Regions from separate parts of the Homo sapiens genome. Here region 2 is linked to region 1. The links come from fine-mapping of genetic effects on gene expression. A gene starts in region 1. The other region holds a variant in brackets. All regions are shown on one strand. Distances are between the middles of the regions. Region 1 holds the start of DPF2 (double PHD fingers 2). Region 2 has its middle 35 kb from the start of CAPN1.

Region 1 (5,159 bases):
CTCACGCCTATAATCCCAGCACTTTGGGAGGCCGAGGCGGGTGAACTCCTGAGGTCAGGAGTTCAAGACCAGCCTGGCCAACATGGTGAAACCCCATCTCTACTAAAAACACAAAAATTAGCCAGGTGTGGTGGTGGGCACCTGTAATCTCAGCTACCCGGGAGGCTGAAGCAGGAGAATTGCTGGAACCCGGGAGGCGGAGGTTGCAGTGAGCCAAGATCGTGCCACTGCATTCCAGCCCGGGCCGACAACAGTGAGACTCTGTCTAAAAAAATAAAAAAAAAGAAAAGATGAGCTAGTGGTCCTGACCTCAATGTACTCAATGTATAACATCAGCTGTCAGAAGACTAGGCACACTATAATCAAGAGAAGTGCCATATCTCCAAATGAACTGGAAGAATAGAAGCCCCTTCTTAAAGGGATAATTCTGTGGGAGTACGTATTAATTGTGATCTGAGGCCCTGTGCAGCTAGAAATGAGGAGGAGAGAGTTGGTTTCTCATTACTGGCATTCAGGAATTAGTGGCTGGTGATGCTCACAATCTCTACAGTTTTTCAAAGAGAAACAAGATGTCACGCTCTGTTTAAATGGGCAACCCCTCACTTATGACACAACTTGAAAGCACTGGCAACCCTATTTCTCTGAGGAAAATCTTCCAACACGAAGAACCTCACTACGTTTAACTCCCAAAACCTAGGCAAGTCTGATACTCCCCCAGTACAATGAGAATCTTCCTTTTTATTTTTGGAGAAACCTGTGTAAAACATCCCCTTACAATGGGATGAGGGAAGTCAACAAAGACGCAGGGAAACAAAGAAAGAACATCTGAGTCAGGAAGGATAACTGGATAAATGGTAGATCAACAGTGTCATTTCTAAATTGAGAAAAATGTCAGCCTGAAGAAAGAGCTGGGGAAACTGGAGTGGGCAGATCAGAGAGAAAGACAATAGCGTTGGGAGGAGGGGTGGCTGAAAGAGACAGCAGGATAGAGCAGAAAGCAACTTAAAAAAAAAAAAAACAAACCACAAGAGGAGGAAAGGCACTTAGCTTAATGGAAGTGGGAAAGCATTCTCAAAGAAAAGGCTTCAGGCAGGAGGGAGAAGCAACTTACTCTTTAAAAAGGCTCTTAGGAAGAGTGGGGCTCAGGCCACGACAAAGACAGATGAGAAGCTGTGAGTCCCTTAGAAGAGTTACCGAACCTTTACCTCGTCATCCAGTCAAAATGCAAAAACCCTGACTGGACAGCTAGACACCACTCAATTTTCCCACCCTTGCACCAAGCCCAACATACCCATTAAAAGAAGCTCTATTCGCCCACCATGCATTAACCCAATCTAAAACTCATTCTGATTCTTCTGTAGGAATAAATCAAGTCCCAAAGCATCTTTAACTCACAGGAAGCAGTTCATAGGCCAGCGTCCATGGCCCCAACAGCTATTAACTTTAACTTTGCTTGAAATCTGACCAGCACAATGGTATCGTATAATAGGAAGAATGCCCACCTAGATGCCCCTTTAGGCTAAGCTGTCCTGAACGGCTTCGGTCCAGTTGCAGGTTTTTGATGGCTGCTACTGGACGGGGCCAAGGCCCACTCCCCTGAAGTTCCTTCCCTTCTGGATCCGCTCCTCGATAAATTCTTCCCAAGAATATTTGTAGTCTTAGGTACCTGCCACCCAAGATCCTCCCAAACATCACGGGGCTGCCTGGAACTGAAACAGCCAGCCCCGCAGTGCACTCCGCAGGGGCCGCCGAGCCTGTTGCTGCAGCGAACGGGACGGGACGGGGCGGGGTGGGCGGCGGGCCAGCCGTAGGGCCGCCCGGGCCTCGGCCCCGCTCCTCCGGACTGAGGCGTCTCGGGAGAGGACCGGGACGGTGAGTCTCGCGTGCAGGCAGGGCGCCATGCTCTGGAAACCGTCAGCCCCGAGGAACGCTGAGGCCACACAGCCCCGCAGGGATGCCGCCCGTCGGGGCTCCAGTGTGCCCCCACCAGGGCCTCCACAAGTTTCCAAAGAAGCGCAACGTCTTCTCCGGAGTCTCCTGTTGCCCTCCCCACCAGGAGTCGCAACATGGCTTTCCCGGGGATGTCCCTCTCTCCGCCTAGTCCCTTCCCCCACCGCCCCCTACTCCCAGGCCCTTTACAAAACCTGCCGCCCTAGGAGAGAAAGAAACGACCACTCACAGCTTCACTACATTCTCCACCACAGCCGCCATCTTCCCTGTTCCTCTGCCTCGGGCCGAGAAGCCCCACAGTCCGCAGCGCGCAGGCGCCGGGACCGCACCGGGGTACCAGGTTCCTTGCCCTCTGCGCAGGCGCCGTCCGGGCGCGCGCACTAGAGCGAGCACTGAAGAAAGAGCTTTACGCCTGTTCGCGGGGGCCGGGTAGGAAATGCGTGGACCCCACGGGAGCCCGACGCGCAGGCGCAACCGGAGATTGGCATGCATCCCGGAGCTCCGGTTCGAGGCTTGCCTCTAATATTTAGAGGAGCAGGAGCCGGGGCCGGGCGCGGTGGCTCACGCCTGTAATCCCAGCACTTTGGGAGGCCGAGGCGGGCGGATCACGAGGTCAGGACATGGAGACCATCCTGGCTAACACGGTGAAACCCCGTCTCTACTAAAAATACAAAAAATTAGCCGGGTGTGGTGGCGAGCGCCTGTAGTCCCAGCTACTCGGGAGGCTGAGGCAGGAGAATGGCGTGAACCCGGGAGGCGGAGTTTGCAGTGAGCCGAGATCGCGCCACTGCACTCCAGCCTGGGCGACAGAGCGAGACTCCTTCTCAATAAATAAATAAATAAATAAAGGAAAAAAAGAAAAAGAAAAAAGATTAGCTGGGCATGGTGGTGCATGCCTGTAATCCCAGCTACTAGGGAGGCTGAGGTGGGAGGATCACTTGAGCCCAGGAGTTTGAGGCTCCAGTGAGCCACTGGAGCCACATCACTGCACTCCAGCCTGGGCAACAGAGCGAGGCTCCATCTCAAGAAAAAAAAAAAAAAAAAGGAAAAAAAATATATATACATATATATATACACATATATATATACACATATATACATATATATATATACACATATATATACATATGTATATATATACATATGTATATATATATATATATATATAAATATAATCACTAAAGCTGAAAATACACATACCCTATGACCCAGCAAAGTCCACTCCTGGATATACACACAAGAAAGCTGTACAAGAAGCTGAGTGCAATGCCTCATGCCTGTAATCCCAGCTACTTGAGAGGGTGAGGTGGGAGAATCACTTGAGCCCAGGGGTTCAAGACCAGCCTGGGCAACATAGCAAGATCCTGTCTCTTAAAAAAAAAAAACAAAAAAAAACAGGCCAGGAGCATTGGTTCACGCTTGTAATACCAGCACTTTGGGAGGCCACGGTGGGCGGATCACGAGGTCAGGAGATCGAGACCGTCCTGGCTAACATGGTGAAACCCCATCTCTACTAAAAATACAAAAACAAAATTAGCCGGGCATGGTGGCGGACGCCTGTAATCCCAGCTACTGGAGAGGCTGAGGTGGGAGAATGGCGTGAACCTGGGAGGCGGAGTTTGCAGTGAGCCAAGATCGCGCCACTGCACTCCAGCCTGGGTGACAGAGCGAGACTCCGTCTCAAAAAAAAAAAAATAAAGCTGTACAAGAATGTTCGTAACAACATTATTTGTTTATATTTATTTATTTATTTATTTTGAGACGGAGTTTTGCTCTTGTCGCTCCTTAACAAATTCTTCCTTCCAGCCCAGGCTAGAGTGCAGTGGCACTATCTCAGCTCACTGCAACCTCCACCTCCTGGGTTCAAGTGATTCTCCTGCCTCAGCTTTCCGAGTAGCTGGGATTACAGGTGCCCCCAGCTAATTTTTGTATTTTTTGTAGAGACAGAGTTTTACCACGTTGGCCAGGTTGGTCTCGAACTCCTGACCTCATGTGTTCCGCCCGCCTAGGCTTTCAAGTGCTGGGATTACAGGCATGAGCTACCACGCCTGGCCAGCTGATGTAACCTTTTCTTAAACAATCCTAAAAGAACTGAAAGCTATTGATGCTGGGTTCATAAGCTGCCTTTCCAATTATATGCAGCTAGCCTATTTATTATTAGTACTATTTTTAAATTCAAACTTTTAATTGAAATATACATAAAGAGAAGCACATAGATCTTATGTAGCTTGACTAATTTTTTTTTTTTTTTTTTTGAGACGGAGTTTCCCTCTTGTTGCCCAGGCTGGAGTGCAATGGCGTGATCTCGGCTCACTGCAACCTCCGCCTTCCGGGTTCATAGCTTGACTAATTTTTTTCAATTTTTTAATTTTTGTGGGTACATCGTAGGTGTATATATTTATGGGTACACGAGATGGTTTGATGCAGGTATACCATGCAAAATAATTGTAGCTTGATTGATCTTTACAAAATAGACAAACCTGTGTAACCACTACCCAGATGAAGAAAAAGACATCACTAGCACCTCAGTAGCCATCTCATGCTTCTAGCCCTAAAGATTAGTGTGTCTGTGTAACTGTATGTCAATGGAATCATACAATATGTCCTATTTTGAATTTGGCTTCTTTTGTTCAATATTAATTTTTTCCTTTTTTTTTTCAGCCCCCACAATGCTTTGTCTACAGTATTACATTTTTGAGATTTTTTTTTTTTTTAAGACAGGGTCTTACTTTGTCATCCAGGCTGAGTGCAGTCGTGTAATCATGGCTCATTGCAGCTTCGACCTCCCAGGCTTAAGTAATTCTCCCACCTCAGCTTCTCGAGTAGCTGAGACTACAGGCACACCACTACACCCTGACTAATCTTTTTTTTTTTTTTTTTAAGACAGCGTCAGCCAGGCATGGTGGCTCATGCCTGTAATCCTAGCACTTTGGTAGGCCGAGGCGGGTGGATCATGAGGTCAGGAGTTCGAGACCAGCCTGACCAACATGGTGAAACCCCGTCTCTACTAAAAATACAAAAAAATTAGCTGGGCGTGGTGGTGTGCGCCTGTAATCTCAGCTACTTGGGAGGCTGAGGCAGAAGCATTGCTTGAACCCAGGAGGCGGAGGTTGTGGTGAGCTGAGATTGTGCCGTTGCACTCCAGCCTGGACAATAGAGCAAAACTCCGTCTCAAAAAAAAAAAGACAGTGTCTCAAAAAAAAAAAAAA
Region 2 (5,159 bases), 120 kb after region 1:
GCTGAAGTCCTAGAACGCTGGACACAGGGTCCTGCAGAACTGCCCTCCCCGACCTCACCTGTCGCCCACCTCCCAACTCTGCTTCAGCCACAGGGCCCTCCTTGCTCTTCACCCTGGGCACACTTTCCCCTGCAGGGCCTCTGCCTGGCAGTTCCCTCTGCCTGGAATGTTCTACCCCAGAAACCTGCAGGGCTCATTCCCTCAACTCCTTCCAGTTTTGCTCAAAATGACCCCTTTTCAGTGAGTCTTTCCCAAACCACGCTAATTAAAACTGCAGACCCCTCCCCTCCAACCTGGCCATTCTTTGTGGGATTTTTTGTTTGTTTGTTTTGTTGAGGCAGAATCTCACTCCATCACCCAGGCTGGAGTGCAGTGGTGCGATCTCGGCTCACAGCAACCTCCACCTCCCGGGTCAAGCAATTCTCTTGCCTCAGCCTCCCGAGTAGCTGGGATTACAGGCGCCCGCCACCATGCTCGGGCTAATTGTATTTGTAGTAGAGACAGGGTTTCACCATGTTGGCCAGGCTGGTCTCAAACTCCTGACCTCAGGCGATCTGCCCGCCTTGGCCTCCCAAAGTGCTGGGATTACAGGCATGAGTCACTGCGCCTGGCCAACCCGGCCATTCTTATCCCCTTTCCAGGCTTCGGTTTTCCTCTGTAGCACTTACTGTCTTCGAACATACTATACGATTCGTTATGCATGCTGGTGATATCTCGCCTCGCTAGAACATGGACTCCAAGGAGCAGGGCTGTGTTCACCGCAACCTCTAGAGCCTCTCCTGGCACTAGGAGGCTCTCTATCAGGCAGTGGACCAGTGACAGCTTGGTTAAGTGAAAGAATCAAGATACAGAACAGTGTGCGCAGGAACAAACATGAGGGGAGGCATATATGTATGGAGGGTCACCACACTTGTGCGGTGGGACCCGAGGCAGGGCATGGCCTGTGGTGGGAGCTCCAGGGCACTCGATGGAATCTCTACAAAGTCGTCTTTACAGGCGGAGATGTCCCCAGACAGTGCCCGGCCTCTCCAGCCTCAGGAAGTGTTAAGAGGCTGGGCAGTCTCTGATGCGTGTGTATGTGTGTCTGTATGTGTCTGTGTGTGTCTGTATGTGTCTGTGTAGGTGTTAGAGCCCATTCCAGCACGAGGTGGACCTCAGACACCTGTTTCAAGCCATGGCTGGATGCCCACCCTGCAGAGTGAGCTGTGTAGGCTGGGATTGGCTGAGATCCCGCTGTGTGCTGGGAGAGGGAGGGGAGGTCAGGTGTCCTGGTTCTCTGGTCCCAAGATTTCTTCCTGACCCCTGATATAAAAGATCCATCCTGTCTTTGCACAGCTGATGGTGGCAGCAGTTTCCGTGCCCAGTGGTGTCCCCAGGAGCAAGCTAAGTAGTTAAAATGAAACATAGGTAGGTGGCAGGCCTGTGTCCTGGGTGGGCTTCCTTCTGCCCCGTGATGCTTTCTCCTAGGACCACCCAGGGGCTGCCCAGAACCAGCCTAGAGTGAGGACTGAGCCTGCCACTTATCACTTGGGGGCGCAACACTCCAAGCTGGCATCCAGGAGCCAGGTCTCCACCATGAAGCTGAGGAATCACCAGCCTTCATAGAGTCATACAATTTCAGGGCTGGCTGCTGCCCTGGGGACCATCATGGCTCACTCCTCTCCTGTGTCCCAGTGGCCTCTGTGTCCCCACACTAAGCCTGGAGACAATAGGTGCTTAGTAAGTGGTTATTGTTGGCTAATTCACAAATAAAATAAACCTAACCCTCTCAATTTACAGATGAGTACACTAAAGCCCAGACCTGGGAAAGGCCATCCAGGGACTCCCCACCCACAGCCAGCAGGGCCACCACTACCCGGGAGCCCAGGTCCCCCAGGTCCAGAACTCTGGCGGGAGGCTTTGAGTTGAGGTTGCTGGATGAGAATCCCAACAAAACAACATGAGAAAAATGTCCGATGACCCTCGACGTTGCCACCCCCCTGTCCCCCCGCCCCCGCCCTGCTCTTTCAGGAGCCCCCGCCCTTCCTGGCCTCTCCTCGGCTGGACTCACCAGGGAGACGGAGTTGAGGATGATGCCAGAGAAGGTCATGCCCATCAGGAACCGGAAGACGCAATAGGCACTGAAGGAGCTGAAATACGCTGTGGCGGCCCCCGAAGCTGCCAGCTGCAGGTAGGACCAGACCAGGGGGCCCTTGCAGCCCAGCCTGAGTCCAGAGAATGGGCACAGGCATTAGGGTTTTGGGAGGCAGCAGCAGCATCCCCCAAGGAACAAATGGGCAGCCCACGCCTGCCCCTTTCACCCGAGCAGGGGATTATCAAGGCAGTCCCGGGGAAGATGGGGTACCCCGCGAAAGCCACCCTTCCAAAACAGAAACTTGAAACTGCTGGGACCCAGGCTTCGTGGCAGAGGTTGGTCACAGACAG[A/G]GGGACATAGTGTAGAAGGAAGCTGGCGAGGAGATTTAGTCCGGGCTCGAGGAAAGGCAGGGATTCTGCAAAGCCCCAGAGGGGCGTGTGGCAGGTGGGGAGAGGTCACCTGAGCACTGCTGTGGCTGGAGGGAGGCCTCGAACCAGAACTCACAGCGGGTGAGCCCTTGGCCAGTCCCTGGTGTGGGAGCAGGAGCCAGGGTGGAGTCATTATGTGGACCAGAGGGTTGCCATGCCACAGAGGGGCCCAAGGACAGGATGGCAGGGTGATCTGCCCTGTTTGCAAATGAGGGTCCAGGGCCAGAGCGCACAGCCTCAACTTGGCCAGCAGGGAAGCAGGCCAAGAAGACAGGCAGCTTTTCTTCTCCACACACTCCATGACCCACTCGCTTGCTCGCCCACTCACTCACCCACCCACTCACTCACTCGCCCACCCACCAACCCACCCACTCACTTACCCACCCACCCACTCACTCACCCACCCACTCACCCACCCACTCACTCACCCACCCACCCACTCACTCACCCACCCACTCACCCACTCACTCACCCACCCACCCACCCACTCACTCACCCACCCACCCACTCACCCATCCACTCACCCACCCACTCACTCATCCACTCACTCACCGACTCACTCGCTCACTCGCTCACTCACCCACTCACCCACCCACTCACTCACCCACCCACGCACTCACTCACCCACCCACGCACTCACTCACCCACCCACTCACCCACCCACCTACTCACTCATTCACCCACCCACTCACTCACTCACTCACCGACTCACTCGCTCACTCATGCACTCACTCACTCACCCACCGAGCCACCCACCCACTCACCCACTCACTCACCCACCCACCCACCCACTCATTCACCCACCCACTCACCCACCCACCCACTCACCCACCCACCCACTCATCCACTCACTCACTGACTCACTTGCTCACTCGCTCGCTCACCCACTCACGCACCCACTCACTCACTCACTCATCCACTCACCCACCCACCCACCCACTCACTTATCCATTCACCCACCCACTCACTCACTCATCCACTCACTCACTGACTCACTCGCTCACCCGCTCGCTCACCCACTCACTCACCCACCCACTCACTCATCCACTCACTCGCTCACTCGCTCGATCACCCACTCATCACCCACCCACTCACTCATCCACTCACTCACTCGCCCACTCACTCATCCGCCCACTCACCCACCCACCCACTCACTCACCCACCCACTCACTCGCCCACTCACTCATCCACCCACTCACTCTCCCACTCACTCACCCACTCACTCATCCGCCCACTCACTCGCTCACCCGCTCACTCGCCCACTCACCCGCTTATCCACCCACTCGCTTGCTCACCCGCTCACTCGCTCGCCCACCCGCTCACTCGCTCGCCCACCCGCTCACTCAGTCACTCACCCGCTCACTCGCTCAGTCACCGGCTCACTCACTCACTCACTAGTCCACTCACTCACTCATCTGCCCACTCACTCGCTCGCCCACTCACTCGCCTGCTCACTCACTCACTCACTCGTTTCTTCATTTCTTCATGCATTCTTTCATTCACTCATTCATTGTGACACAATGTTCATTGATCATTAATCACCTCTAAGTGACAGGCCTGAGTTGAGGGTTGGTGACAAACAAGACATTCTGGATAAGACACAAGCTCACATGTAGAAAGACCAGGGTGTATCATGACACGGTGTGATGAGGGCCTGAGGTGTGTGGCACAGGGAGCCATCTACACTCCAGAGTGTGGGGTGGAGTCCGGGAGGGCCCCCCAAACCTGAACTGAGAGAAGAAGGGCAGAGGAGAAGGGAGAGGGGAGAGAGAGCGAAGAGGAGGAAGGGGAAAGAGGTGCAGAGAGAGAGACGTAGGAGCCAACTTCAGAGCCATGAGCTGGCTGCACATCGTCTGTCAATAGGGGTCAGTTAGGTGCAGTGCTCACACCTGTAATCCCAGCACTTTAGGAGGTAGAGGGAGGAGGATTGCTTGAGCCCAGGAGTTCGAGACCAGCCTGGGCAACATAGTGAGACACCCCCCCCCACCCCCACCCCCCGATCTCTACTAAAAATAATTTTTTTTTTATTAGCTGGGTGCGGTGGTGCGTGCCTGTAGTCCCAGCTACTGGGGAGGCTGAAGCAGGAGGATCACTTGAGCTCAGAAGGTTGAAGCTGCAGAGAGCTATGTTTGTACCACTGCCCTACAGCCTGGGTGACAGAGTGAGACCTCACCTCTAAAAAATAACGGGGAACAAGTTAGGGCCCATTCATACAGTGGGATGTAGTGTAAAGACTAGGAGGAATGGGACAGCTCTTTCTGAAGGAATAGGAGAGGCCTCCAAAGCGAAGAAAAAGCCGGGTGCAGGACCACGTGGGGTGTATGCCAGCATTTGCACAAAAAAAGGATGACCAGGCCTGTCACCTCAGCTACTTGGGAGACAGAGGCAGGAGAACTGCTTGACCGTAGAAGTTTGAGACCAGCCTGGCCAACATAGTGAGACCTCATCTCAAAGAAAAAAATGGGGGCACATGAAGAAGAAAACAAATACAAAACAGGAAAAGAAAAATGGGGGAATGGAACATATACACCCACTTGCTTGACTGCATAGAATCATAAAATGTCTCTGGTAAAAGGCATAGAAAGCAGGCTGCCCTCTGGGGATTACTGCAAGGAGGGGCAGAGCAGGAAAGGGGTGATCCCCGGCAGACTCTTCTG

What was found. PIP is the estimated chance that this variant, and not a neighbour inherited with it, causes the effect.
Region 2: its variant is the best candidate, but not a certain one, in a credible set for the expression of DPF2 in whole blood (INTERVAL, PIP 0.67).

Annotation. Positions count from the first base shown.
Region 1 is chr11:65,330,939-65,336,097 of GRCh38, reverse strand. It overlaps DPF2 (double PHD fingers 2), which reads right to left and starts at 2,246. Exons shown (of 11, transcript NM_006268.5): 1 at 2,180-2,246. The coding sequence starts at 2,211. RefSeq lists a silencer at 1,805-1,894 and an enhancer at 1,945-1,994.
Region 2 is chr11:65,214,580-65,219,738 of GRCh38, reverse strand. It overlaps the pseudogene SLC22A20P. Among named protein-coding and RNA genes, the nearest start is that of CAPN1, 35 kb to the right of the region's middle. RefSeq lists enhancers at 1,900-2,463, 2,464-3,027, 5,055-5,159. The variant A/G (reference allele first, on the strand shown) is at 2,425.